Linked DNA regions of Homo sapiens. The protein of the gene in region 2 purifies or fractionates together with the protein of the main gene of each other region. This does not show direct contact. Each region holds a gene or a part of one and is shown on either strand. Other genes may lie near its edges.

Region 1 (15,563 bases), on a different chromosome or scaffold from region 2:
TGCTACTGCACTCCAGTATGGGTGACAGAGCGAGATGCTGTCTCAAAAAAAAAAAAAAAAAAAGTACATTTGTGAGATTCATCCCCATTGTTGCATGTATCAGAAGTTTATTCTTTCTCATAGCTGTGCTGTTTTCTGTAAGCATGCCTCAATGTATTTATCCATTCTACTGCTGATACATAGTTGGGTTATTTCTAGTTCTGACTTATTACAAATAATATTCTTAAACTGTATACAGTATATTTCTGCGATGGACAAATACATCCATTTCTACTGGGCATATAACACAGGAAGTCATGTTATATTTATGACTTTATTAGGAACCACTGAACAGTTTTCCAAAGTGGTTGTACCATTTTGTATTACCATCTACATTTATACAACCCACCATACGTGAGTTCTTTCTGCTCCTCATCTTGCCAAAACTTGGTACTATTGTTCTCTTCAACTTACTCATTCTGGTGGGGTGCAATGGTTTTGGTATTTTCTTAAACATACTTCTTATTTACTCTTGCTTCATTGATACTGTTATTCTCCCAATAAATTATTCCTAAAATTGTAATGACTACTGAATTCAGAGATGTTGTGAATTACTATTCAGTCAAGAACTTGCTACCAAAGTTCATTTAGTCTTATTTGTCTTCCTTCTCCCTCCATTTCTTTTTTTTTTTTCTTTTTTTGAGACGGAGTCTCGCTCTTTCGCCCAGGCCGGACTGCAGTGGCACTATCTCAGCTCACTGCAAGCTCCGCCTCCTGGGTTCACACCATCCTCCCGCCTCAGCCTCCTGAGTAGCTGGGACTACAGGTGCCCGCCACCGCGCCCGGCTAATTTTTTGTATTTTTAGTGGAGATGGGGTTTCACCGTGTTAGCCAGGATGGTCTCGATCTCCTGACCTCATGATCCGCCCGCCTCGGCCTCCCAAAGTGCTGGGATTACAGGCGTGAGCCACTGCGCCCGGCCCTGCCTCCATTTCTTAAACACCTCCAGGTAAGAATACTTTAATTCATTTACCACTTTGTTCTTATACAAATAAACAAGTTGCCAATTACAAATCTAGCTACTTTGGAATATCCTTCATCTCATTAATACATTACTAGTGTAAGTTTGCTGACAGGATTTGATGTACAATAAAAAAAAATACATCTTCCCTGTAAAGCCTATTCATGACAATAAATCCTTCAAACAATTCCACTTCTAAAAAAAACTAATTTTTCTGTGTAGTATTCAACAATGTTAAATATTTCAAAAAAATGCAATGTTTGTGCAGCTAGCTAACCAACACTTATTTTGCCAACTTGTTATTAAAATCTATCCTAACAATCTGTGTAGCTAGGAAGGGAGCCACAGATGTGACATAATCAAGATTTTCCAGATTACTTTTAATTATGGGACTATTTTGCTCAAATGCTGAACTATCAGGATTTCCAGACTACTGAATGCCAGATAAGTAATGGGACTTTATCATTATTCTGATAAGCCTTTGGATAACAAAGTCAGGTAGCGCTAAACACTCTTCCATCTATTATATTACTAAGGCAGCGCCCAAATGATCCATAAATTACAAATAAACAAGTTGCCAATTACAAATCTAGCTACCTCCATCTCTGTGCCACATCAGACAACTCACAGCATTCAGATCCAATAAACAACCCTTGGCCTGCTAAAAACAATTATAATTAACAGCTGTGGATGAGTGAGTAGTTATAGATTTCTGAAAAACTAGGAATTGTTCCACACAACAGGAAAGGTGTTTGTTTAATCAAAATATTGGGAAAGGCAGAGATCTTAAAAGAAAATATGCAACCCAGCATGATGGCTCAGGCCCTACATCCCAGCACTTTGGGAGGCTGAGGCAGGAGGATCACTTGAGGCCAGGAGTTTCAGACCAGCCTGGACAACATAGCAAGACTGTTTCCACCCCCACCCCGCCTCAGAAAAAGAAATCCAGCACAATCCCCTATCTAAATCCAGTACTAAACCCATATCTTCCATAAAAGGCAGCACGGTGAAAAGAGAATAAAATTCTGAAATCACACTGGGTGTGGTGGCTCACGCCTCAGGTGGCTAGTGTCTGCAATCCTAGCACTGTGGGAGGCCAAGGAGGGCTGACCGCTTGAGCCTAGGAGTTCAAAGCCAGCCTGGGCAACATGGCAAAACTCTGTCTCTAGAAAAAATACAAAAAATTAGTCAGAAGTGTTGGGAGGCGGAGGTTGCAGTGAGCCAAGATTGCACCACTGCACTCCAGCCTGGGTGGCAGAGCAAGACCCTGTCTCAAAAAAAAAAAAAAAGAAAAAAATGAAATCAGACATCACAGCCCCTGGTTCACTTCTGAACTTCCTTACTAACCAGCACTACGACCTGGGCAAATTACCTAATCTGAGTCTCAACTGCCTCATCTGTAGGGAATTATGCCAATTATACACCTATCTCATAGAACCACTATATGAATTATTTTAAGATACTATATGGATTATTTTAAGATACTATATGGATTATTTTAAGATTAAATGAGATAATCCATATAGTGTCTACAACATAAAAAATTTTAGTTCAAATGTCTCCTTTTGCCAGAAAGAATACCGATCACATAGGGAACTTAAGTTATGGCGCTGTGAGGGCCACCTCACTTCTCACCCAAACAAAATTACAAAAATACATGAATTCCCTCTACAACATCTTGGAAATCAAGTCCTGGTCTTTACACTGGAATACACATGTCCGTAGGGGGTACACAAAGATATGCAAGCAAGGGAATCAACTTCCATGCTACTCTCATAAACCTGATCTGTGTGGATAACTAGATGATCAATTTTAAATTTTCAGGCATAAAATTTATTACTTTAGGATGGGTAGGAAAACTACAGCCCTAAACCAGATCTGGTCTGCTACCAATAAAGTTTTATTGGAACACAACTACACAAAAATACTTGCATATTATCTACGGCTATTTTCTGGGTTTTTTTGGGTTTTTTTGAGACAGTCTTGCTCTGTCGTCCAGGCTGGAGTGCAGTGGAGCGATCTCGGCTCACTGCAACCTCCACCTCCCGGGTTCAAGCGATTCTCCTGCCTCAGCCTCCCAAGTAGCTGGGACTACAGGCGCCCACCAACACGCCCGGCTAATTTTTTTTGTATTTTTTAGTAGAGGCGGGGTTTCACTGTGTTAGCCAGGATGGTCTCGATCTCCTGACCTCGTGATCCGCCTGCCTCAGTCTCCCAAAGTGATGGGATTACAGGCGTGAGCCACCGCACCCGGCCACATATTGTCTATGGCTGTTTTCTCACTACAGTGAGAATTAAGCAGTAATCACAGAAACCATGTGGCCCATAAAGCCTTTCATCTGGCCTTTGACAGAAAGTTGACTTTTGCTTTAGGATAAAATTCTGTGGGAAAAGTGGAATGGATACAAGTTCAAAAAGAAAAAGGAAAAATATGTAATGGACAAACTCCCAAAATGATAAAAATGACCAAAACTAACTCAACTAACTATATTAAGAAATTGAATTAGTAAAATCTTCCCAGAGAGAAAAACCCAGGCCCATAGGACTTCACTGGTAAATTCTATGAAACACGTAAGAAATAATACCAATCCTACACAAACTATTTCAGAAAACAGAGGAGGAAGGAACACTTCCCAATTCATTTTATGAGGTCATAATTACCCTGCTACTAAGGCCAAAGATGACATAAAAAAAAGGAAACCTCAGACCAATATCCATCATGAACACAGTCACAAAAATTAACAAAATGTTAGCAAATTGAATCCATCTATATGTAAAAAGTAGTAGATACATTACTAAGCAGGGTTCATTTCACAAATGCAAGATGGGTTTAACATCTGAAAATCAAGTAATGTAATAAGCTATGTTATGTATTTCTTACAGTCTTTGTTTCAAAAGTTTAGTTGTATGTTTTTACAACATCAAATTGATATTGTATTTAGGTAATTTTATATTTATTTTTAAGAAGTCAATATTTACTTGTCAGAAATTACATCCTAAACTATTTAAAATTAAATACTTACACTATGTAAATCTAGGATGAAAAGTTTCAGGTGCCAACTTAAAAGTATATAAGATCTAACAGATTCCACAGTCTTTTAGACATTCTCAAGAAGAAATGTTTTAAGACTAGTGACCCAGCCTATACCTGAAAGCCTGAAATGACAAGGAGAAAAATAATCATTCATGCCAAAGCAACACCACCATATCTTCAAACTTTTGACTTCTGCCCATAAATTTACTCTTAGCACATCTAGATCTAAACCTAATATTCCAGGTACAAGCCTACCAGTGATGCAACCTTTCTCATTCTAGATTTTGCATTTTCCTGATACAATATACTAATGCAGGTCACATCGGTTCTTCTCACAGCCTTCTTAACCACACCACTGATTGGTGATTAAAACATCACATCTTTTTATTATAGAACTCCTGTGAGGTCACATCTCCACCCTCCCCTAATAGGTATAGTTGATTTTGTTTGGACCCAAGCGCAATTTCTCACATTTATACATGCTTCCTTCATTTCATTAAACAGCACTGAGCAAATTATATTGAGATCTTTTCCCATTCTGGCAATCACCAACCAAATGACTCTTTCTTTACTTCACAAAGGCACCAAATCCAATAAGCAAACCTTCTAGATAAGGTCTCAAATACATGAAGTATATAAAGAAAGTGATGAAACCCCAGTTTAGATCACCGGAATTCCAGCTGTAAGTAGTGTCCACAAATCAAACCTCTCCATACATAGATTTTCAAACTCATGACTCCATCTAACTACCACAATCTGGCAAATTCCTCCATCTCGCCCACTCAGTTATAGTAAGACTCAGTAAGACCAGGCGCGGTGGCTCACACCTGTAATCCCAGCACTTTGGGAGGCTGAGGTGAGTGGATCACCTGAGGTCGGGAGTTCGAGACCAGCCCGGCCAACATGGTGAAACCCCATCTCTACTGAAAATACAAAAATTAGCCAGGCGTGGTGGTGCATGCTTGTAGTCCCAGGTACTTGGGAGGCTGAGGCAGGAGAATCGCTTGAACCAGGAGGCAGAGGTTACAGTGAGCAGAAATTGCACCACTGCACTCCGTCCAACCTGGGCAATGGAGTGAGACTCCATCTCAAAAAAAAAAACAAAAACTTCATAAATGCCTTGCTAAAATTCTGACACACTATCATTATGGTCACTACACTCCTTTGAGCCACAATTTGGATGTCCTGTCCTGTTGTTCTGGCTGAATTTAGGAGAACTCTAGTAAGCCCTTCTCTGGATAAGAAAAGAAAAATGATACATCTTCCATTTTGTATTAATTACAGAATCTCACAAATGGCAAGGATTTTAAACATTTTCTAATGTTGTTTTTCTTAGACAGAGTCTTGCTATGTTGCCCAGGCTGGCCTTAAGCAATCCTCCCACCACTGCACTCGGCCCTAGTCTAATATTTTTCTTTTCTTTTCTTTTTTTGAGAAGTTTAGTTCTTGTTGCCCAGGCTGGAGTGCAGTAGCATATCTTGGCTCACTGCAACCTCTCCCTCCCAGGTTCAAGCGTTTCTCCTGCCTCAGCCTCCCAAATAGCTGGGATTATAGGCACCCACCACCACCCAGCTAAGTTTTGTATTTTTAGTACATACGGGGTTTCACCACGTTGCCCAGACTGGTCTCCAACTCCTGACCTCAGGTGATCCACCCGCCTCAGCATCCCAAAGTGCTGGGATTACTGGCGTGAGCCACAGTGCCCGGCCTTAATATTTTTCAAACTATACGTCATGACCTATTAGGGGTCAGACTCAATTTAGTGAGTTGCAACCAATATTTTTTTAGAGTGCATCTTCTGTAGAAAGGGTAAGTAAACTTTTCATTGGTGTGTGTGTGTGTGTACACACTGAGTGTGCAGGGGCACAATAAGTCATGATGTATAATATATCTAACTGTGGGTCACAGGTAAAAAATTTTGAGACACTTTTCTAGCCCCACAGCCCTATGCCAAGGAGGCTCTACCAAGAAATTGGTAATAAACAAAATGTCATGTTTTTACATCATACAGAGAAACTAGCTAAGAGGATTTTGTGCTCAGTACACGTAATCTGCCATTCATTAAAAAAAAAAAAAAAGATTAGGATCCATCTGGGTGTCCAGTTGAAATACTAAACTGCTTGGAGACAGCCATTTCTGTTTTGGTGGGGTGAAGACCTGTATTTGAGACAGCAGACTGAAATCGGTTTGGTCTGTGGCGAAGGAAGAGAAGAAAAACCATTCTGGGTCGCGAGTTCCTCACCTGTAACCACAGGAGAAGACTGTTGGCTTGGTCAGTTGATTTTCAACTAATCTCCCAATTGAAGAGTTAGGCGAAGCAATTGCTATTGGGAGATTAACTGAAAATTAACTGACCAAGCCAACAAGGACTATGCCTCCCACAAACCAAAACACTTTAACCACTCAGCAAGTCAAGTATTGATACATACAATCAATATCACACAAAGTGTACTGAAAAGAACCACAGACTTGCATCAAAGGCAGAAATGAATCCAGGGATAACTTCCTGGGATTCGAAGATGTGACCTGGTAGGTATAAATTTCTCAGGCATCCTCTTTTTCTACCCTCCAGTTCATCTCCGTCCTCAAGCTATCAGTCATGGATGTGGCACTGGCGTTCTTCTCTGCCACCGTATCTCATTATGCAAAGGGAAACTGAGGCACGAAGAACAGAGTGAGTGAGCCAAAGAACTGCAGCAGCCACCAACAAGGCTGGACTAAGGGCCCAAGCAGCTAATGCCTCACTCCCCACACAATCCCCATACTATTTAGAATCCTGCAGTCCTCAGCCTTCCACCTCAAACCAAACTCCTGGGGCCGCCCGTAGTACGTGGTCCCCTGCTCATCCGATGAAGCCCCCAGCTCTTGCCTGCCTGCCTGCCTCTATAAAGGTCTACGAGGCCTGGAACTCTGAAGCCTAAAGCAACCCCGGCAGCCCCCTCCCACGACCGTCCACAAACCAGTAGCCTCCCTTCGCTCCCACCTCCGCGCCGACGGGCCTGGAGCTCCTCCGCACACCACACCAAGCCGACCACTCAACACCAGAGGACCCACAGAAGAATTCTCTCCACGCCCACCCCCACAGCATCGGCCTTCACCACCGCCGCCGCTGCCGGAAGCGCCCCCACGTCTCCACGCCACCACCGTGAGGTCACTTCCGGCGCGACACCTTGGAATCCAGGGCCGTCAATTGAGGGGCGTGGCACCCGGGAAATTTAAGAGGTTGGAAGAACGTCCCTTCGGCCTTACAGAATTGCGCTTGGGTAGTCATTTTGCCCTCCACGCTTACTTATGTCCTGTGGCGTCTTGGCTGGAATCGGGGCTCTACCCACGACTCCCCAGCCTCGATGCCTGGGCCCCCCTCTTGCAGGCTCGATGAAAAGCACCCGCTTCCCCTCCTGTTACCCCAGCGCCAATCGCAGAGCTGGAGCGGAGGACTTTCAGGGAGGCCTGGTGACGTGACAGCCCCTCCGTGCTAAACTGCAGCTGTGGGACTTAATAAGTGCGACAACCCCCTGATGGATTAAAGAAAACAAGATATTCCTGCCGTGGTCGATCTTCAAAGCGTATCAGCTTCAGCCCTTTTGGGGGTTAAAATCAGCCAGTCCGTGCTTGACTGCTCTCCCTTCCCCCATACTCAGTACACAGGAAAGTGCCGCTCTTCTACCCCTGGCATTTTAGAGTCTTGATTTGTGGGGAGACGGGAAAGCATGCGTTTAGGGCCAAGACCGTGTAATGAGGAATATTGCACAGCCTTGAAGCCTGACACCTGGTTTGGGAACCACTACTTGGGCGAATAGCATAGAGTAGGGTAGCAGTTCCAAACCTAGCTCTACAAAATCAGTTGAAGAACTTTGTAAAATCTACACTTTCTAGGGGACTGCTTCACCCTTCCCCCTCCATCACCAGAGATTCCCTAGGTCAGAAGGGGTCCTTGTCTTTTAAAATTACTGTTATTAATGAACACTTATAGAGCAGTTTTTGGTTCAGGGCAAAACTGAACAGAAAGTACAGAGTTCCCATATATCCCCTGTACACACAGGCACATACACAACTTGTCCCCTCATGGACATCTTGTGCTACAGTGGTACATTTGGTAACAATTGATTACCCAACTTTGACACATCATTATCACCCAGAGTCCATAGTTTACATTAGAGTTTACTCTCGGTGTTGCACATTCTGTGGGTTTTGACATATATGTAATGACATGTATCCACCATTATGGTATCATACACGATAGTTTCACTGCCCTGAAAATCCTCTGTCCTCTGCCTATTTATCCTTCTCAGTCCCCTAACCACTGGCAACCACTGCTCCTTTTACTGTCTCCATAGTTTTGCCTTTTCCAGAATCCCATATAGTTGGAATCATACAGTATGCAGCCTTTTCACATCGGATTCTTTCACTTATGCACTTAAAGTTCTTCCATGTCTTTTCATGGCTTGATAGCTCATTTCTTTTTTGTGCTGAATAATAATATTCCATCGTCTGGATGTGCTGCGGTTTATCCATTCACCTACTGAAAGACATCTTGGTGGCCTCCAAGTTTGGGTAATTATGAATAAAGCCGCTATACATCATGTGCAGATTTTTGTGTAGACATGAGTTTTCAATTCATCTGGGTAAATACCAAGGAGTGCAACTGCTGGATTGGATGGTATATTTAGTTTTGGGAGAAACTACCAAACTGCCTTTCAAAGTGGCTGCATCATTTTGCATTCCCACAGCAGTGAATGAGGGTTTCTGTTGCTCCACATCCTTGTCAGCGTTTTGTGGTGTCAGTATTTTGCCGTTCAAGTAAGTGTGTAGTAGTATCTTATTGTTTTAATATGCAATTCCCTAATGACATATGATATTGAACATCTTTTCATATACTTACTTGCCATGTGTATATCTTCTTTGATGAAGTGTTCATTCAGGTATTTTGCCCATTTTTACATTGTGTTATTTTCTTGTTGTGATTTAAGAGTTCTGGGTATATTGTAGATAACAGTCCTCTATCAGATACGTCTTTTATAATATTTTCTCCTAGTCTGTGGCTTGTCTTCTCATTCTTCTTTTGAAGAGCAGAAGTTTTAAATTTTAATGAAGTCCAGCTTATCAATTATATTTTTCACAGATTATGCTATTGGTATTGCCCTAAAGTCATTGCCATTCCCAAGATCAGTTAGGTTTTCTCCTGTGTTGTCTTCCAGGAGTTTTATAGTGTTCCATTTTACATTTAGGTCTACAATCCATTCTGAGTTAATTTTTATGAAGGGTGCAAGGTCTTTGCCTAGATAATTTTTTTTTTTTTTTTGAGACGGAGTCTCACTCTGTTGCCCAGGCTGGAGTGCAGTGGCACGATCTCAGCTCACTGCAATGTCTGCCTCCTGGGTTCAAGTGATTCTCCTGTCTCAGCCTCCCAAGTAGCTGGGATTACAGGCACCCGCCACCACACCTGGCTAGTTTTTGTATTTTTAGTAGAGGCAAGGTTTCACCATGTTGGCCAGGCTGGTCTCGAACTCCTGATCTCAATTGATCTGCCCACCTCGGCCTCTCAAAGTGCTGAGATTACAGGCGTGAGCCACCGTACCCGGCCTGATACATTTTTATGTGTGTGAAAATTCAGTTGTTCCAACATAATTTGTTGAAAAACCTATCTTTGCTCCATTATATTGCTTTAACTCCTCTGTCAAAGATCAGTTGACTACGTTTATGTGGGTCTACTTCTGGATTGTTTATTCTTTCACCAATACCACATTGTCATTATTACTGTAGTTTATAGTAAGTCTTGAAGTTGGGTAGTATCAGTCCTCCAACTTTGTTCTCCTTTAATAGTGAGCTGGCTCTTCTAGGTCTTTTGTATCTCCATATCAATTTTACAATCAGTTTGTCGACATCCACAAAAATAATATGCTGATACTTGGATTGGGATTGCATCGAATCTATAGATCAGGTTTGGAAGAACAGACATTTTGACTATATTTTCTTTCTATCTGTGAACATGAAATATTTCTCAATTTATGTAATTCTTTTATATCTTTGATCAGAGTTTTGTAGTTTTACTCATATAGCTCTTGTATATGTTTTGCTGTATAGATTTATAACCTGATGACTTTTTTTTTTTTTGAGACAAAGTTTCACTCTTGTTGCCCAGGCTGGAGTGCAGTGGCACGATCTCAGCTCACCGCAACCTCTGCCTCCTGGGTTCAAGTGATTCTCCTGCCTCAGCCTCCCGAGTACCTGGGATTACAGGTATGCACCACCACGCCCAGCTAATTTTGTATTTTTAGTAGAGATGGGGCTTCTCCATGTTGGTCAGGCTGGTCTTGAACTCCCGACCTCAGGTGACCTGCCCGCCTCAGCCCCCCAAAGTGCTGGGATTACAAGCGTGAGCCACCCAGCCTACCTTTTGTTTCTCTAAATCTGCTCTTTCTGAAGTTAGTATACCTACTCCTGCTTTCTTTTGATTAGTGTTATCAATGATATATCCTTCTCCACCACTTTACTTTTAATCTATGTATGTCTTTATATTTAAAATGTGTTTCTTGTAGACAACATATTGTTGGGTCTTGTTTTTCATCCATACTGAGAACCTCTGTCTTTTAATTGGTGTATTTAGATGACTGATGCTTAATTAATGATATAGTTGAATTAATGTCTACTATATTTGTTACTGTTTTTTTTTTCATTTTTTGTTGTTGTTGTTTGTTTTTTGAGACACCGTCTCGCTCTGTTACCCAGGCTAGAGTGCAGTGGCATGATCTCAGCTCACCACAACCTCCATCTCCTGAGTTCAAGCGATTCTCCTGCCTCAGCCTCCCGAGTAGCTGAGATTACATGCACATGCCACCACAACTGGCTAATTTTTGTATTTTTAGTAGAAATAGGGTTTCACCATATTGGCCAGGGTGGTCTTGAACTCCTGACATCAAGTGATCCACCAGTCTTGGCCTCCCAAAGTGCTAGGATTATAGGTGTGAGCCACCACACCAGGCCCTTTTTTTGTGTGTGTGTGAGTTGGAGTTTCACCCTGTCACCCAGGCTAGGGTACAGTGGTATGATTGTGGCTCACTGCAGCCTTAAATCCTGGGCTCAAGCAATCCTCCCACTTCCCAAGTGGTGGTACTATAGGTGCCCACCATCACACCTGGCTAAGCTTTTTTTTTTTTTTTTTGAGATGGAGTCTCGCTCTGTCACCCAGGCTGGAGTGCAGTGGTGCCATCTCTACGAAGTGAAACCCCGTCTCAATGCAAGCTCCGCCTCCCGGGTTCATGCCATTCTACTGCCTCAGCCTCCCGAGTAGCTGGAACTACAGGTGCCCGCCACCATGCCTGGCTAATTTTTTGTATTTTTAGTAGAGATGGGGTTTCACCGTGTTAGCCAGGATGGTCTCGATCGCCTGACCTCGTGATCTGCCCACCTCAGCCTCCCAAAGTGCTGGGATTACAGGCGTGAGCCACTGCGCCCAGCCTGCTAAGCTTTTTTATTTGTTTGTTTGTTTTGTAGAGACAGAGTCTCACTATGTTGCCCAGGCTGCTTTTCAATTCTTGGTGTTAAGTGATCCTCCTGCCTCAGCCTCCAAAAGTATTGAAATTGCGGTGTGAGCCATGGCACCTGGCCTTGTTACTATTTTCTGTTTGTTACCCTTATTTTTTATCTGTATTTGTCTTCTACACATTTTCTGCCTTTGGGGTGTGTGTGTGTGTGTGTGTGTGTGTGTGTGTGTGTGTGTGTTTATGTGTGTTTGAGATGGAGTCTTGCTCTTGTTCCCCAGGCTGGAGTGCAGTGGTGCCATCTCAGCTCACTGCAACCTCTGCCTCCCAGGTTCAAGCGATTCTCCTGCCTCAGCCTCCCAAGCAGCCGGGACTACAGGCATGTGCCACCACACCTGGCTAATTTTTGTATTTTTAGTAGAGATGGGGTTTTGCCATGTTGGCCAGGCTGATCTCAAACTCCTGACCTCAGGTGATCCACCCGCTTCAGCCTCCTAAATTGCTGGGATTACAGGCGTGAGCCACCACACCCAGCCACCTTTTGGGGTTTTAATTAAGAATTTTTATGATTCTCTTTTCTCACCTATATTAACATACCAATTATTCTTTTCTTTTTTTTTTTGTTTTAGTGGTTGCCCAAGAATTTGCAAATATGCAATTTACATTTTCAAATAATCCAATTCAACTTTCAAATAACACTATACTACCTCATGAACAGTGCAGGTACCTTATAATAACAAAATATTCCTAATTCTTCCCTCTTGTCCCTGCTATCATTGTTGTCATTCATGCCACTTATACATAAGCATATATTATTAACTTTACCAGCATTTCTTAGTTTTCACCTTAGGTGGGACAGGATGGCTAAAGAGGCTAAAGTTGGGTATTTTTCTTTCCACAGCAAGGTTAGGCTTTAATAAAACCCCAGTAGGTTAGGCTCCTACCACTTCAGGCCTTACTCCCAGAGACTCTGATTCGCCTAGTCTGGGGTACAAGCCAGGGATCTGTATTTTAAAAAGCTCCTCAGATTAGCTGGGTGTGGGGGCTCACACCTGTAGTCCCAGCTACTTGGGGGACTGAGGCAGGAAGATAGCTTTAGCCTAGAAGGCGGAAGTTACAGTGAGCTGAAATCATGCCACTGCACTCCAGCCTGGGCGACAGAGTGAGACCCTGTCTTAAAAAAAAAAAAAAAAAGAGCTCCTCACAGAATTCAGATGCTTATGGCCAGAAGCAGAAGACCACACTTTTGGAGCTGCACCAAGCTCTTTGCTTAACATTACAAGGGAAAGCCTCATATCACCACCATTCCCTCCTCAAGACTCTCAATACCACCCCATGCCCCATTCACGCAAAAAAATCTGGAGGTTCATTGCTCCAATGTCTAATTTGGTTCTTTCCTTCCCCACCTTTTTCCCTGGGCTCTTATCACTCCCACACTAATGCATATCTAGTTTTACACAAGAGGATGTTTTCGCAACAGAATCTAGAACTTGGGGTGTTTGTTAATTATACAACAAATTCAAATTAAAGATCAACATCATACAGAATTAGGGACACGTGGGTCATGCTATGACATATTCCAGATACCTGTCTTTTCAACAATCACCAGCAATAGTGTGTTAACATTGAATACAAGTTGGGACAAGAAATATACATCATGTGCCTGGAACATCTTGTCATACAAGACAGCAAATAAACCATCACACTACAAGATTTTTGTCAAGAGCTCACTGTAACCTCCGCCTCCCAGGTTCAAGTGATTCTCCCACCTCAGCCTCCCAAGTAGCTGGGACTACAGGCACACGCCATCACACCCTGCTAATTTTTGTATTTTTTCGTAGAGACAGGCTTTCACCATGTTGGCCAGGCTGGTCTCAACCTCCTGACCTCAAGCGATCCACCATCCACTGGGATTACAGGCGTGAGCCACCTCGCACGGCCTGTGTAATTCTATTTATATGACATTCTGGAAAGGGCAAAACTATAGGAACAGAAAACATCAGTGTTTGCCTGGGGTAGAAAATGGGAGGGTATGACTGTAAAGGATTTGGCGAGAGGGTTGGAGGAGTGGTAGAACTAAATCTTGATTATATGCATTTGCAAAACTCATGGAAATGTATACCTGGAAGAATAGATCTGGAGCTCAGGAAAGAAAGATGAGGTTTGGAAGTCAATTACCAGGCAATAATTAAAGTCCCAATAATGGGCACTATAGTCCAGGGATAGCATATAGCATGAGAAGAGTCAACAGCTAAGGACAGAACCCTGAGGAACACCGACATTTAAGGGATACGCACAGGACGAGGTCTATTCAAGGGCAACTGAGAAGCAGCAGCTAGGAACATAGAGGAAAATCCAGCAGTGGGTGATGCCAAAGAGACCAAGAGGATCTTTAAGAGAAGTCAACAGTGCTAAATATTCCAAAGAGCTCAAATCAGAGGAAGACTGAAAATGTACATTAGATTTAGCAACTAGGAGGTCCTTGGTGATTTTGACAGAGGTTTTAAATCGGAGTAAAGGCCCCAGAAGTCAAATGCCAGTGGTTTGAGGAGAGAACGGGAGGTAAGCAAGTGGAAGCACTGAGCGCAGTGGCTCACCCCTATAATCCCAGCATTTTGGGAGGCCAAGGCAGATGGATCACCTGAGGTCAGGAGTTTGAGACTAGCCTGGCCAACATGGTGAAACCCCATATCTACTAAAAATACAAAAATTAGCTAGGCGTGGTGGCGTGCACCTGTAGTTCCAGCTACTTGGGAGGCTGAGGCAGGAGAATCACTTGAACCTGGAAGGCAGAGGTTGCAGTGAACCGAGATTATGCCACTGCACTCCAGCCTGGGCGACAGAGCAAGACTCCATCTCAAAAAAAAAAAAAAAGTAATTATCTACTTCACCCCATGTGTATAGCTGAAAGCTTAGCAAGTTAATGCTGAATCTGACATTAGAACTCAGGTCTCTTATTACATATATGTAGGGGAAACATATGTTCCAGTTTGGATGGAATAGTCCCTGTTCATGCCTGTTACCTTATTGTAATTATTAATACCACCTGCTTTTATTCTCAAATACATTGAGAAAAATTTGATTAAAGGTGATAACTTTCTATAGTCAGCCTACTTATATGGCATAGGCTTTGAGGCTGGCAAGCATTCTTGGTTACTTAAGATCATTTTTCTTTTATATTATCTCAAAGATTTAAGTCTCTTACATTCTCAAATGTCACTTTATAAATGAAGTAATGCACATACATAAAAGCAGGCCCCAGACTATAAAGTGCTAAACAAAGGTTAGGATTAAAAAGAATAATAACCTTTTAGGCAACAGTTTCTTAAATGTAACACCAAAAGCACAAGCAAAGCAAGAAAAAAATAAACTGTACTTCATCAAAATTAAAAACTTTTGTGCATTAAGAGATATATCAAGAAAGTGAAAAGACAACCTACGGAATGGTAGAAAATATTTACAAATAATATATCTGATAACGGTCTGGTATTCAGAGTATGTAAAGAACTTTCTTTTGGTCAATAAAGGGTTTAAAAAATAAAAACAAGAAATAACAAAAAAGAACTCTCAACAACAAAAAGATAAACAACTCAATCTTAAAATGAGCAAAGTACTTAATAGACATGTCTCCAAAGAAGATACACAAATGGCCAACAAGTACATAAAATGACACTGAACATCAGTAGTCATTAGGGAAATGAAAATGAAAACCACAATGAAGCCAGGCACTGTGGCTCATGTCTGTAATCCCATCACTTAGGGAGGATGAGGCAGGAGGATGGCTTAAAGCCAGAAGTTCAAGGCCAGCCTGGGCAACAAAGTGAGACCCTGTCTCTACAAAAACAAAAAATTGGCCTGTGGGCCAGGTGGGGTGGCTCACGCCTGTAATCCCAGCACTTTCGGAGGCTGAGGCAGGCGGATCACTTGGGGTCAGGAGTTGAAGACCAGCCTGGCCAACATGGTGAAACCCCATCCCTACTAAAAATACAAAAATATGCTGGGCATGGTGGCGCGTGCCTGTATTCCCAGCTACTTGGGAGGCTGAGGC
Region 2 (15,874 bases):
AGATCATCTATAAACATACATAGCAGATTGACATCAAAGCCTTTCTAGGTTGCCTTTATGACTTCTTGACATATGCTTAGGTTCCGAGGATCAAAGCCCCTCAAACTTACCTGTTTCACTTTCTAGAACTAAAGCTAGTCTGTGACATCTCTAGCAGAAAATAAGGCACATCGACCATTTCACAGCACCTCTGCAATTAGGCTTTTGATTATGTGGTGTGATAACTTATCCACACTGAAACATTTTCAAAAGAGAAAACAGATTATTATTATTATTTTGTGTTTTTTTTTTTTTTGAGACAGAGTCTCGCTCTGTTGCCCAGGCTAGAGTACAGTGGTGTGATCTTGGCTCACTCTAACCTCCGCCTTTCAGGTTCAAGCAATTCTCCTGCCTCAGCCTCTCAAGTAGCTGGGATTACAGACATGCACCAGCACGCCCAGATAATTTTTGTATTTTTAGTAGAGACGGGGTTTCGCCATGTTGGCCAGACTGGTCTCGAGCTTCTGACTTCAGGTGATTCGCCTGCCTCAGCTTCCTGAAGTGCTGGGATTACAGGCTATCATTGTTATTTTTTAAGACAAGGTCTTGTTCTATGTTTCAGGCTGGAGTGCAGTGGCATGATCACAGCTCCTCTTGGGCTCAAGCAATCCCCCTGCCTCAGCCTCCCAAGTGGCTGGGACGACAGACATGCATGCCACCATGCTTGGCTAATGCACTTTTTAAAATTTTTTGTAGAAATGGAGTCTCCCTGTATTGCCGAGGCTGGTTTTGAACTCCTGGGCTCAAGCAATACCCCGGCCTTGACCTTTTGGAAATGTTGGGATTACAGGCCTGAGTCACCCTGCCCAGCCGGGATGTTTTTAATAATTATGCCAGAGCAGGCACAAACAAGGACTTTCCACCAGGGCAAACTAGGCCATATGGTTACCCTAATTATATACCACATCAAATGTAAATAGCCAAAAATTTCAAGAGTAGTTTATAGTTCCAGATATATTTAAATTATAATATCCAAGCCCTAAATTATAATATGGACAATATAAACCAAGTGAATCCCTTACTAAATATAAAGCTCTGAATATCTCACATTGTACACAAAATCAATTTCAGATGCATTATAAACGTCAATGTGAAAAAGCAAAGCACAAAAAGGTTTAAAGATAATCAAAGTATCTCTATGATGTTTTAAAAAAAGAAACACTAGCCATAAAAAACTGATGAACATGTTTACATTAAAATGAAGAACTTCTGTTAATTTAAAGAAACTACTAAATGGAAAAAATGTTTGCAATATATACATCCAACAATGGAGATATATTCAGAATACAGAACTCTAGAAAAAGACGTGTTTCGATTTAAAAAAGGAAAAGATTTCAAAGGCATTTTATGAAAAATGAAATCCAAACACCCAGATATGAAAAGCTGGTCAGCCCCATTTAGTAATGAGGGAAATGATTAAAACTAAATACAACTACATACCCACCAGGATTGGCTAGAATTGAAATATATGATACCACGTACGGTTGTTGGTAAGGGATATGAAACAAGAACTCTTACATACTAATAAATGAAGTAAAAACCACTAAACAACTACTTTGAAAAACTACCTGGCATTACCTGATAAAGACCAACATTCCCCATGTTCTTGCAATTCAAATTCTAAGTATATAATCTCAAGAAAACGAAATAAACATGCACCAGTGCACTTAAACAGAAATGTTCATAAAAGCATTGTTTATAATAGCCCCAAACTGCAAACAATCTAAATGCAATATCCAAAACAATGGCAGAAGGAATAAACTTGTGTTATATTCATGATGGAATATTATGAAACAATAAAAGCTAAAAATAAAATATATACAACACAATCCTATTTACATAAAGTTAAAAATGGGCAAAATTAAACTCTATTATTTAGAGATGTAAACTTATATGGTAAAACTATAAATGTCAGAAGAACATTTATATCTAGCTTAAATTAAGATGGTGATAGTTGTGATGGGAAAATATAGGTGGTGGGAGGCTTCTGGGATGCTGGCAATGTCTGTCTTGCCCTGGGTGGTGGTTACAAAGATGTTTGTTTAAAAATATTTCATTTTTATCTTATGTATCTTTTCAGCCTGTGTAGTTAGGTTTCCCAATAACACTCTCCCTGAGAAATTAAAAAAAAAAAAGTTCAAAAGAGAATGCTAAGACTGTTACTCAAAGAGATTAACTCTTAATCCATAGTTTAAAAACAGTAACAGGGATCTCTACATCCAAATACACACTGTATTATAAATTCCATGAATAAACTTTTGGCTTCAGGCCGGGTGCAGTGCCTCACACCTGTAATCCCAGCACTTTGGGAGGCCAAGGTGGGTGGATCATCTGAGGTCAGGAGTTTGAGACCAGCCTGGCCAACATGGTGAAACCCCGTCTCTACTCAAAATACAAAAATTAGCCAGCTGTGTTGGGCGCCTGTAGTCCCAGCTACTCGGAAGGCTGTGGCAGAACTGCTTGAACCCGGGAGGTGGAGGCTGCAGCGAGCCAAGATCGCACCACTGCACTCCAGCCTGGGCAAGAGCAAGACTCTGTCTCAAAACAACAACAAAAAAAAACGAAAACAAAACAAAACAAACACTTTTGGCTTTAATCTTTTAGACTACCATTCTTCGTTCAAATTTTGAAATGGAAGGTGAAATTTTCTGATATCGAATTACTCAACAAGTCATGTAAATTTTAAAATTTTAAGATTGAACTCCTTGCTTCTAATCTTGAAATCTGAAATGTGTCCAGTATTGACTAGACAGTTATAATGTAGTTTTCGATTAGATAATATCATGTAGACTAATATATAAAGGTTTGATAATGTCAGTTTTTGCGAACATAATCAAATTCCCCAAACTGGTTACACATTTAACTCATGTTGCTTAAGAAAAAGCAGCCGGGTGCGGTGGCTCATGCCTGTAATCCCGGCATTCTGGGAGGCTGAGGCAGGTGGATCACTTGAGGTCAGGAGTTCAAGACCAGCCTGGCCAATATGGTGAAAGCCTGTCTCAACTAAAAAATACAAAAATTAGCCAAGCGTGGTGGCACGCGCCAGTAATCCCAGCTACTCAGGAGGCTGAGGCAGGAGAATTGCTTGAACTTGGAAGGCAGAGGTTACAGGGAGCCAGGATTGTGCCACTGCACTCCGGCCTGGGCAACAGAGTGAGACGCCATCTCAAAAAGAAAAAAAAAAAAGAAAAAGAAAAAGCATATAATGATGTGGGATGAAATATCAAAGCCATGAGTACAAACATAAATTCAATGATTAAAAAAATTTTTCACTGCTATATTCATATATTTATCAAGTCATGACACAAAGAACAAATTTATATTTTATGTCATTATGTCATATGAATTTAACTATTACAGACTAATGAAATACTGACTCTAAAAGCTGCTGAAAAGTTTTTTAAAATGTGGGTTGTTAAAATGTAGACTTTTGGGGTTCCTGCATAAAAGGATATGTTCGTAGTTTTTAAAAAAGAACAAAAATACTTTAAAATTTTCAAATGTATTTTTTTTCTTTGTGAGGAATAAAGGTAACACAGCCAACTTATTGAGTCACTAAGCTGGCAAGACACTTTTAAATTCAGATTAGGTAAAGCAATACTTTAAAACAAATTTATTAAACCACTTTAATGAGAAATTATTTTCAACCCATATCTGGCTCTCACCCAGCACTTTTCATAATTTCATAAAGAGAGGCTTTTTCATAATTTCAAAAAGCCAGAAAAACACTATACAGCTAAGTAACTATTGTATAAAAAATATAAAAATAAATTCAAAATAAGGCCAAGCAAAAACTAAGTTACTTAAGAAGCATCACTGGGAAAGTCTTTAATAAACACCAAATACCATCCATCATACATCCTATAGCCGATTTCTAACCGCCAAGTCTACAGGTGTTTTAATGAGGTAATGTGTCACTGCATAATGTTTCACAAGGTGAAGAGGGAAATGTGGGGGTACTCCCTGGTTTTTCATACTACTTTTAAAATTAGACTTGGTGATTTTAAAAAGTGTATAATTCAATGATCTTCAGCAAATTTGCAGAGTTGTGCAACTATCACCATCTCATACTACTCCTTTATGGTGTACAGTTCTGTAACATCAAAAGGTTCCCTACCCAGGTATAAGATTTGTCCCAACACCAGGGCTATTAAAAAGATTTACCAGAGGCTGGGCGCGGTGGCTCATGCCTGTAATCCCAGCACTTTGGGTGGCCGAGGCGGGTGGATCACCTGAGGTCAGGAGTTCGAGACCAGCCTGGCCAACATGGTGAAACCCCGTCTCTACTAAAAATACCAAATTAGCTAGGGGTGGTGGCAGGCGCCTATAATCCCAGCTACTTGGGAGGCTGAGGCAGGAGAATCACTTGAACCCGGGAGGCGGACGTTGCAGTGAGCCGAAATCATTGCCTTTGCACTCCAGCCTGAGCAAAAAGAGCTAAACTCCATCTTAGAAAAATAAATAAATAAATAAATAAATAAAGGATTTACCAGAGCATCCAAGAAATATTATTAAATACTTGATCCCGTGAAACCACTCCCCTATCTGTTAACGATTTTTAAAATTTTACAGATTTCGAAAATCTTCTTCTTTATCCTTGGACCTAACCTATCCACAGGGTCCCTAACCATGCTATGCAGTTCCCACCTCTACCAGAAGTGCTGGGAAAATCACCTAGGTTATCTAGCTTCCCTCAAAGTATTTTACACTGTTGTGAGATTTCCTTTAAGATTCAGGAGCTAAAGTTTATTTTCTTTCTGGTTTCCTGGCGGAGCAAAGGCCCTGCACGTGTGAACGGAAACAAAACCCACACAGACTCTAGGGATGCCAAATATTAACACTGTGGGTAGGGGCACCTTCCTTCTCGGCCGAATTCCCTTTCCCAGAGAGCCTCCAGAGGGATCAGTCAACGCCCACTGAGCCTGGATCAAAGGTCAAGCTTGCCTGGTCAAGAAGGATCCTGGATCAAGCTTGAACCCGTTTCCAGAAACAGGGGCGTCGGGGCAGCAGCAAGCATTTTTACCACGCGCCCTAATGAGGTGGTTGCACAACAGGCTTTGAGGATTCCGGTTTAACAGGTAAATACCAACAGAGGATGAGCCGAGGGAGATGGGATCTGCTCCACGGCATCGATGGCATTTCGAGAATGTCTGCGTCGCAGAGCAAACCCAAAGTTTTAGCACATTACTCAAGAGTTCACCAGAGGAAGATCGCCACGAATTGAAATGAACAAAGTGAGAAAATGGGTGCTGTGTAGTCAACGCATCCGCGATGAACTCAAGCTGGGCGGAAAAATTCTTTGAATACTCCGGCTTTGTTTTGTGCTAAGACGGCAGAAGCCCCGAATTTCGGAGTTGGAAGACGCGTTTCTCCGTGTTCTCCGGCCCGTTCTCGGACTTCAGGGCCGCCCGCCGCGCACTCAGTCCCGTAGTTCCCCGGGCTTCAGGCGCGGACATTCCGGGGGGCGGAAACCAGGGAGCCGCGGGGAGGCCGCGGTCCGGCCCGCGACGCCGGGGCCCGGAGAAGGGAGGCGAGAGGCCTCCCGGAGCTCGACGGAGGGAGGGGAGGGAACGAGGAGGCCGCGGGCCGGAGCGGGGAGCAGCCCCGAGCGGCGCCCGGCTCGGCCCCCACCCTGAGGCCCGGTCCCGCGTACCTTTGGCAAGGGCTACGGTGGAGTTTTCGGTGTCGATGGTGTAGAGGATGCCCTCGTAGCGGATCTCCGCCTTGGAGATGAGGCTGATCTTGCTGCCGATGTAAGGGGTGCCCCCGCTCATGGCGCCGCCGCCGCCGCTCCCAGCTGCTCGCAGAGAGGCAGATCCCACGCCACTGTCGCCCGCTCCGCACGCCCGCTCGCTCCGTCGGCGCCTACAGCAGCCGCTTCAGACCCAACATGGCGGCGGCGCCGGCTCCGCTACCCTCCCCCAGCCTCCCGCCCTCAAGCCGCGGCGCGGCGGCGGCGGCGGCGGCGGCAGCGGCGGCGGCGCGGGGCATGCTGGGAGGGCGAGGCCGCGCTCTCGCGAGACTTGGCCGGCTACTGGTGGCTCCCGGCTCATTCGTGGCCTCGGGAGTCCCGGCAGCGCTTGTTGGCCTGGACTACGGTGGTGGTCTTGGGGCCGCGTGAGAGGAACTTCGGGGACCGGCTGAGTGCCTCGTGGCACCCGCTTGCTGCGGGCTGGAGAGGAGGCGCGCGGCCTTCCTTTTGACTCAGGCCGTGGCCGCCTTGTCGTGGGTCCTGTGTCTTTGCCGACGCGGGGCCCTCGGCCTGGAGCGCTGCCCACCCGCCTCCGAGCTGTGGCGAGCCGCTGCTCATCCTTCTAAGACGCTGAACCTGCACCTCGTGGAGCTCCTACGGCTCCATTACCGCAGTCATCGCCCGGGGAGCTTCCCCCGAGGCTGCCCCTGGAGCTGGGGCTCTCACAAGGACTCAAGTGTTTCAGCCCCTTCCTGTCCCGCTCATTCAGCCGGTCTGAACCAGTTTCATGGCTTGCAACGCCATTGTAACTCACTAATCCCAATTATCAGTATGTAGCTTGGATCAATTCCGTGAACCAGGGTTTCTGTCGAATCTCAAACGTTAAGGGTCCAAAGCCATGCTCCCTGTTTCCCCTCTAACCTGCTCCTTCACCACCGTTCCCTATTTGATGTAAACGGTACCATTTTTACTCAGCTGCTCAGACTAAAAGCCGTGAGTCAGCCTTGCCCTGTCTTGCTTCCACATCTGTTCTGACTACACCTCTCCGTTATGTATACACAATATATCCTAAATCTGACTTCTCATCTCCATTCCTACACTTCTCCCACAAGCCACGATTACTCGGGCTGAATTATTGCAGTAGCCTTCTAAAAGTTGCCTCTGTGTCAACTCTTGCCCCCAGTACTTTATTCTCAATACAGCAGCCAGAGAGATCTTCTTAAAATCTAACTCAGGGCTGGGCGCAGTGGCTCACGCCTGTACTCCCAGTACTTTGGGGGCCCGAGGCGGGCGCATCACCGGTCAGGAGTTCGAGACCAGCCTGGCCAACATGGTGAAACCCCGTCTCTACTAAAAATATAAAAAAATTAGCCAGGCGTGGTGGCGCGCGCCTATAGTCTCAGCTACTTGGGAGGCTGAGGCAGGAGAATTGCTTGAACCCAGGAGGCGGAGGTTGTGGTGAGCCGAGATTGTGCCACTGCACTCCAGCCTGGGCGACAGAGCGAGACTCCGTCTCAAAAAAAAAAAAAAAAATCTAACTCAGATCATGTCCTTCCTCTACTCACTCTACTGATCCCATGTTACACAGAGAGAAAACCAGACTTTGGTGTCTAAGGATATACATGATTTAGCTTCTCGTTCTGTTCCAGTCGCGTCTAATTCAACCAGTACTTGAGCACTTTATTCCAGTCTCTGCTCAAGCATCACCTCCAGAGATGACGTCCCTGACAGCCTTGTTTAAAATAATACCACTCATCTCCTTAACTCAGCTTGTATTTTCTTTATAGCATGTATCTCTCTCAAGTATGTCTGTTTAATTATTTGTATGTATCTGTCTCCTTCACTAGAATGTAAACATTTTGAGATAGTGATGTTGTTTTGGTTGCTGCCGTATCATCAGGGGCCTAGTAACAGCACGTGGCTCAGGGCAGCTGCTCAGTTAATATTTGCTGCATGAATGAACAGCAGGATGAAGGCAGAGCACAGGCAGGACGGTGAGCTGAGTGAGCAAATGGCGAGAAGCCTGGCATCATAAGAGAGGGACACAGGAGAGAGACAGAGCTCTGATGGGGCTGGTGCACAGTGGCTACAAAGAAAGGTTTGGAAATCCCTGTTTCAGTACAAGGTCCATGCGAGGAAGTTGAATTATTTGTTTTTGTTTTTTTGAGACAGTCTCACTCTGTCACTCGGGATGGAGTGCAATGGTGCCATCTCGGCTCACTGCAACCTCTGTCTCCTCTGTTCAAGCGATTCTCCTGCCTCAGCCTCCCGAGTAGCTGGGATTACAGGCGCATGCCACCACGCCTGACTGATTTTTTGTATTTTTAGTAGAGATGGGTTTCACCATGTTGGCCAGGCTGGTCTTGAACTCCTGGCCTCAAGTGTTCACCTGCCTTGGCCTCCCAAAGTGCTGGGATTACAGGCGTGAGCCACCGTGCCCGGAAATTCTTTCAAGGCTAAATAATATCCCTTTGTATGGACATACCATATTTTGTTTATCCATTTATCAGTTGATGAACATTTGGGTTGTTTTCACTTCTGCTATTATAAATATCCATGAGTACCTCTATGAACAAGTTTTTGTGGGAACATGTGTTTTCAATCCTCCTAAGAATGAAGTAGTTGAGCCATATGGTAACTCAGAGTTTAACTTTTTGAGGAACTGTCAAACTGTTTTCCAAAGCAGCTACACTATTTTACATTTCCACTGGCAATTGTATGAGGGCTCCAATTTTCTCCACAGCCTCACCAACACCTATTATTGTCTATCTTTTTTTGTTTGTTTGTTTGAGACGGTGTTTCGCTCTTGTTGCTCAGGCTGGAGTGCAGTGGCGTGATCTTGGCTCACCGCAACCTCCGCCTCCCGGGTTCAAGAGATTCTCCAGCCTCAGCCTCCCTAGTAGCTGGGATTACAGGCATGCACCACCAAGCCCGGCTAATTTTGTATTTTTAGTAGAGTGGGGGTTTCTCCATGTTGGTCAGGCTGGTCTCAAACTCCCGACCTCAGGTGATCCGCCCTCCTTGGCCTCCCAAAGTGGTGGGATTACAGGCGTGAGCCACCGCACCCCGCCATTTGTGTATCTTTTTGAGACAGGGTGCCACTCTGTCATCCAGGCTGGAATGCAGTGGCCCTATCATGGCTCACTGCAACCTTCCTGGGCTCAAGCAATCCTCCACCTCAGCCTCCCAGGTAGCTGGGACCACAGGTGCAAACCACCATGCCCAGATAATTTTTGTATTTTTTTGTAGAGACAGGGCCTTGCCATGTTGCCCAGGTTGGTCTCAAATGCCTGGACTCAAGTGATCCTCTCGCCTTGGCTTCCCAGAGTGCTGGAATTACAGGCGTTGAGCCCCACACCCAGCTAAACACTTTTAAATTGGGCAATTTTTCTTTTTATTGTTGAGTGGCAAGAGTTCTTTTATATATTCTAGATACAAGTCCCTAATCAGATCTATAATTTGTAAATAGTCTCTCTTATTCAGCGGATTGGTTGTCTTTTCACTTTCTTGATAGTGTCCTTTGAAGCACAAAAGTTTTTAATTTTTATAAAGTCCAGTTTATTCATTTTTGTTGTTGTTGTTGTTTGCACTTTTGGTGTCATATGCAATAAAGCATTGCCTAATCCAGGATACAAATATTTACCCATAATGTTTGCTTCTAAGTTTTATGTGTTAGCTCTTACATTTAGGTCTTTGATTTATTTTGAGCCAATTTTTGTCTATGGTATGAGGGGGACTTCAAATCTTGCCTGAAATAGAGATGGGATTAAGAAGCTTTCAGATCAAACAGGAGATGGAGTGATTACAGGAGGAAGAGTGAGATGCATTCTGGAAAGTAAGCAATTCAGTGTGGCCACAGCCTAAAGAATGCAGAGTATATTAGGAGTTATAGTGGATAGCAGTGGCCACACCAAAGGTGGTGAGGGTTGAGGGCTTTGTTTCTCCCATATTGTCCAACAGCCATCCCCTAGCCTCATAAAGTAAAGACAAATATAAGGAAAAAACAGTGTACTAGCTGGGAATTGCTTTGGACAAGCCTCGCAAATCCTCCAGATCTTCTTTCTTACCCCATAGCTCCTCAAGTGTAGAAATTCTAGAGCTTCTACTGCTGAAAACATGAATGGGGAAGAATTTAGTTTTTCTGCAGGTTGCCGGGAGCTCTTAAGCAGGGAAGCAACAATGGATTTTGGATCTTTAGGAAGCCTGCGATGGTCATAAAATGTGTCACGGTTCTCAACCTTGTTTCTAGTACATGAAACGGAGATTAATGTGCATATTACACTAGGGGCTACCAACTGATCAGCTGCATTATACATAGTTCCTGCCGCCCTAGGGTGCAGGAAACCATGAGTTGCAAAACATAAAGTAGAATCTAACAGATTGGTGACTGATTGGGTGTAGCCAGATAAGGACTCCTAGTTCCAGGACTGAACACCTAGGTCAGTCCTAGGGCTAGTGATGAGCATAAGGAGAACGGATAAAAGGAAGTTTATTTGGGGGGAGGATGGAAATACTAATAGATGCAAATAATTTTGCACTTGTTGAGCTGGAAGTGCCTGTTGGGACACCAAGCAATTGCGTCTATTTCATAATTGGTATGACCCTAAAAGTCAGGAGATCTGAAATGGAGGTGTACATTTGGAAATTGTTACAGATGGAAAAAGGATAAGCTCACTGTCAGTGGCTCATGCCTGTAATTCCAGCTACTCGAGAGGCACTGCAGCCTGGGCGACAGAGCGAGACTCTGTCTCAAAAAAAAAAAAAAAAAAAAAAAAAAAAGAAACACCAAGAACAGGCAAATCCACAGAGGCAGAAAATATTAGTAGATTAGTGGCTGCAAGGGGCTGGGACATGGGGGTGAGGAGTAGGAATGGGAAGTCACTACCAAGGGGCGCAGGGTTTCTTTCTGGGGTGATAAAAATGTCTGGAAGTAGGATGGGCACAGGGGCTTGTGCCTGTAATCCCAGCACTTTCGGAGACCGAGGCTGGTGGATCGCCTTAGGTCAGGAGGTCAAGACTAGCCTGGCCAACATGGTGAAACCCCGTCTCTACTAAAAACACAAAAAAATTAGTCAGGCGTGGTGGCGCACGCCTGTAATCCCAGTTACTTGGGAGGCTGAGGCAGGAGAATAGCTTGAATCCGGGAGGCGGAGGCTGCTGTGAGCCAAGATAGTGCCATTACACTCCAGTCTGGACAACAAGAGTGAAACTCCATCTCAAAAAGGGAAAGAAAAAAGAAAATGTCTGGAAGTATATAATGATAATGGTTGCATGGCTTTGTGGATATACGAAAACCCACTAAATTGTATACTTTAAAAAGTGAACTTAGGGCCGGGCGCGGTGGCTCAAGCCTGTGATCCCAGCACTTTGGGAGGCTGAGGTGGGCAGATCACGAGGTCAGGAGTTCGAGACCAACGTGACCAACGTAGTACTAAAAATACAAAAAAAATTAGCTGGGCGTGGTGGCGGGCGTCTGTAATCCCAGCTCCTCAGGAGGCTGAGGCAGGAGAATTGCTTGAACTTGGGAGGCAGAGGTTGCAGTGAGCCGAGATCACGCCACTGCACTCCAGTCTGGGCGACAGAGCAAGACTCCATCGCAAAAAAAAAAAAAAAAAAAAAAAAAGAGTGAATTTTATGATATGTGAATTCTATCTCAAAAAGGCAAACTTTCCATGTAAAATGGCCCTATTAAAAACTAAGTTTATGTAGCAAAAACAGGCACTTGCTTTTGAAATAATATGTAAGTAAAAAAGCTGAATACAGAATTGTGTGAGTATAAAGACTTTCTTAAAAGGAAAAAAAACAAACAACATATGAAAATAAAGGAGGAAAGCAGTAATTTCCAAATGCTATGGTACCATGGTATTAGATAAAATTTTTTGTTTGTTTGTTTGTTTTTTGAGATGGAGTCTCGCTGTGTCGCCCAGGCTGGATGGAGTGCAGTGGCGCGATCTCGGCTCACTGCAAGCTCCACCTCCTGGGTTCACGCCATTCTCCTGCCTCAGCCTCCCAAGTAGCTGGGACTACAGGTGCTCGCCACCATGCCCAGCTAATTTTTTGTATTTTTAGTAGAGAAGGGATTTCACCGTGTTAACGAGGATGGTCTCAATCTCCTGACGTCGTGATCCGCCCGTCTCGGCCTCCCAAAGTGCTGGGATTACAGGCGTGAGCCACCATGCCCGGCCTAGATATAAACTTTTAAGGTAAGTTTTTGTCTCTGTATTAGTTAGGAGATGTGTTCTGTTTATAGGAACCACCCCCAAATTCAGTGACTTAAAACAATTATCACTTTATTATACCTCTCAATTTCATGGATCAGGCTTGACTAAGCAATTCAGTTCCGTGTAGCCTCAACTGGAATCATTGAGGGCAGCTTGCCTGGTCTAGAGGGTCCAAGATGGCTTTACTCACTTATCTGACTATTTCACAGGATCAGCTAGAAGTCCAGGAATTTTGTGACACTATTTGTGGCAGTGTTATTTTGAGTCTCTCCTGACCAGCAAACACATATCCTAAATGATGCAAAAGGCAAAGATATCTAACATCTACTGGTATTGTATACTTTGTAAAGTACACAAAGTCTACTTTGTGCTTGGTATTGGGTCAGTCATCTTACACACATTGGAGGAGACACATCTTACACAGGTTGAATTTTTTTCTTTTTGAGACAGGGTCTCACTCTATGGCCCAGGCTGGGGTGCAGTGGCATGATCTCGGCTCATTGCAACCTACACCTCCTGGGTTCAAGCGATTCTCGTGCTTCAGCCTCCCAAGTAGCTGGGATTACAGGCATGCACCACCACACCCACCTAATTTTTGTATTTTTAGTAGAGACGGGTTTTCACCATGTTGGCCAGGCTGGTCTGGAGCTCCTGACCTCAAGTGATCCACATGCCTCGGCCTCCCAAAGTGCTGGGATTACAGGCACTTTGGGAGGCCAGTCCACAGGTTGAGTTCTAAAGCCATGTGTGTCTGTTGGTTCTTCTCAGAATTAGATGCTGAGCCAGAGTTAAGAGGTTTATTGGAGGTAATGCCTGAGAAAGGTAAAACGGAGAAGAAGCAGGATTGAGCAGGGAGAGCCCCAGACCGTACTGCAGATCTGACAACGTCTTGGCCAACCCAACAGGAAGCCCTGGAGTGAAGATGGCTCTTTGGAACAGAAATGGTTAGGCCCTAGTACCCCTGTTGTGTTCTGTCGTTGGCTGGGGTTGTCTGGGAGGAGCGTGGCCTTGGATTGAAAGAGGAAGTAGATCCTGTTGGCTAACTTCACTTCTTGGAACAGCACGATTAGTTCTTTCTGGAAACCAGTAAAAATTAGATATAGTGACTGGGCGTGGTGGCCTATGCCTGCAATCCCAGCACTTTGGGAGGCCGAGGCAGGCAGATCACTTGAGGTCAGGAGTTCAAGACCAGCCTGGCCAACACAATGAGATACTGTAAAAATACAAAAAATTAGCAGGGCATGGTGGCACACACCTGTTATCCCAGTTACTCAGGAGGCTGAGGCCCGAGAATCACTTGAACCTGGGAAGCAGGGAGCTGCAGGGAGCCGAGATGGCGCCACTGCACTCCAGCCTGGGTGACAGAGCCAGACTCCGTTTCAAACAAACAAACAAACAAACAAACAAACAAAATGTATATATGGTAAACAATACTCCAAAGTCTTATCCTGAGATTGCATCTCACCTTAGTGTTAGTACACTTGATCCCCAGATTAATGGATTTCTCTCTTTTTTAATTTTTTGAGACAGGCTTTTGCTCTGTCACCCAGGATGGAGTATAGGGTGCGAGCGCAGCCCACTGTAGCCTCAACCTCCTGGGCTCAGGGGATCCTCCCACCTCAGCGCCCCCAAGTAGCTGGGACCACAGGTGCACACCACCACGTCCAGCTATCTTTTTAAAGAGAGTGTATTTTTCTGTTGAAAATCTGCATCTTGTTGGCTTGGCACAGTGGCTCATGCTTGTAATCCCAGCACTTTGGGAGGCCAAGACAGGTGGATCACCTGAAGTCAGGAGTTCAGGACCAGCCTGGCCAACACAGTGAAACCCCATCTCTACTAAAAATACCAAAATTAGCTGGGTGTGGTGGCAGGAACCTGTAATCCTAGCTACTGGGGAGACTGAGGCAGGAGAATTGCTTGAACCCGGGAGGTGGAGGTTGCAGTGAGCCGAGATCATGCCATTGCACTCCTGTCTGGGCGACAAGAGTGAAATTCTGTCTCCAAAAAAAAAAAAAAAATCTTCATCTTCTTATCATTTTGTCTATTTTATGCTCTAATTTCATTAACATATTTATAGTAATTATCATAAAGTCCTTATCTGTGAGTTCCAGCATCTCAATCATATAAGAATCTGCATGTATTGTTTTTTCTCTTGATTATGCATCACATTTTCCTGCTTCTTTGCATCTCATAATTTTTAATTTTATGCCAGATATTGTGTCTAGCTAGATACTGTATTCTAGACATTGTAAAGAACCAAAGTGACGGAAGTAAATATTTTTTTCCCTGGAGAGGGCAAGCCCTTTCCTCTTGCCAGTCAATTAGGATGAGGAGCTTGATCAGTCAGATCCAATCAACAGTGGAGCTGAATTGGGGTTGGATGAATTGCAGATTTAGTTAGTTTTTGTTCACCTGGATTTTAAATGTCTTAAGGGCAAGATGTGATCTGCGTGTCTTGTGGGCCCCTTCTTCTAGTGGAATTTTGGACCTGAGCATGAAGAATTAGTGGAGTTTTCTGTCTGTCTTTCAATGAGGAAGACAGAAGACCCAGCCTCCTGCACTGTAACCCACTTAGCAAAAATGGAAGACTAGCACTGTGTTTTGAGTTCTTAGATATTTCCATCTGTTGCTCCAGCCCGTAGAGATGTTTAAAGAATCAGTGGTTTCTTCTTAGCCAAGGAGAGCCCCATCCTCTGTGGCAGGGCCCATCCTCTGCCTGCCCATGCCCAGACTTGGCAAATGCCCCCAATGATCCCTAATTTTTCCTACCTATGAAGCCTTGTCCTCTTTCTCTAGAATTTAGTTCCTTTAGACTATTTTATAGACATCTGAAAAATCAGTATGATATTTTACTTTATCTGTTTTCCCCCATCTTTACAGCAAAACTGGTGGCTTATTTAGATATTTACAGCCTAATTGGAAGAGGAATTTGAAAGATTTTTTTGGCCATATTCATTTTTAATTTTTATTTTATTTATTTATTTTTTTGAGATGGAGTCTCACTCTTTTGCCCAGGCTGGAGTGCAGTGGCACAATCTCTGCTCACTGCAACCTCTGCCTCCCAGGTTCAAGCAATTCTCCTGCCTCAGCCTCCCGAGTAGCTGGGGTTACAGGCATGCACCACCATGCCTGGCTCATTTTTGCATTTTCAGTAGAGACAGGGTTTCGCCATGTTGGCCAGGCTGGTCTTGAACTTCTGACCTCAGGTGATCCACCGGCCTTGGCCTCCCAAAGTGCTGGGATTACAGGTGTGAGCCACCACACCCAGCCTTTGGCCATATTTAAATCCATTAGGAACATATCTGTTATATCCTTAGGGAGGACCTCCTAGCTAGTTTTTTTTCTCTAGAGATAGACTGCTGGTCCTTCATTTAAGCAATATATAATGCTCTTGGCTTGCATTTGGGGGCCATGTGTTTTGGAAAATATGTCCCTTCGAACAACAGACCCACTCTCACTGGGTGAACCTCTTATTCTGTGAGAGACACTCTGAAACTGAGACTAATAACCATTGCTAGGGAAGGTGTCGCCCATCCCATACGTGCTCTGGGGTGCATGCACATTGAGTGGAATTGTTACTAATTCCTATCTTTCTCTTACTCTCTCTTGCCAAGGCAGGATCGTTGAATTGGTATAGTTAAATACATAGATGGTAAAATTTCATAGTTTGCTGCTTCTTAATTTAGTTAGAGCAGCCCTCTGTTACATGTCTTTATGTCTAATTTTAAAATGAGAAAACTAGCTGGGCATGGTGGCTCATGACTGTAATCCCAGCACTTTGGGAGGCTGAAGCAGGAGGATTGCCTGAGTCCAGGAGTTCGAGACCAGCCTGGGCAACATAGTGAGACCCTGGCTCTTCAAAAATAAAACAAAATTAGTTGTACGTGGTAGCACATTCCAGTAGTCCCAGCTACTCAGGAGG

Evidence for each region.
Region 1: the proteins of LSM14A (region 2) and EDC3 purify together in Homo sapiens (affinity purification with mass spectrometry; 2 studies listed by BioGRID). This does not show direct contact.

The regions. Positions count from the first base shown.
Region 1 is NC_000015.10:74,688,863-74,704,425, forward strand, and holds the start of EDC3 (enhancer of mRNA-decapping protein 3), read right to left. Parts: upstream 7,163-15,563; 5' UTR 7,018-7,162; intron 6,954-7,017; exon of another isoform or gene 6,504-6,953; intron 4,157-6,503; exon of another isoform or gene 4,024-4,156; intron 1-4,023. UniProt on the Homo sapiens protein: Binds single-stranded RNA. Involved in the process of mRNA degradation and in the positive regulation of mRNA decapping. May play a role in spermiogenesis and oogenesis.
Region 2 is NC_000019.10:34,162,582-34,178,455, reverse strand, and holds the start of LSM14A (protein LSM14 homolog A), read right to left. Parts: upstream 5,953-15,874; 5' UTR 5,814-5,952; coding exon 5,693-5,813; exon of another isoform or gene 4,984-5,692; intron 1-4,983. UniProt on the Homo sapiens protein: Essential for formation of P-bodies, cytoplasmic structures that provide storage sites for translationally inactive mRNAs and protect them from degradation. Acts as a repressor of mRNA translation. May play a role in mitotic spindle assembly.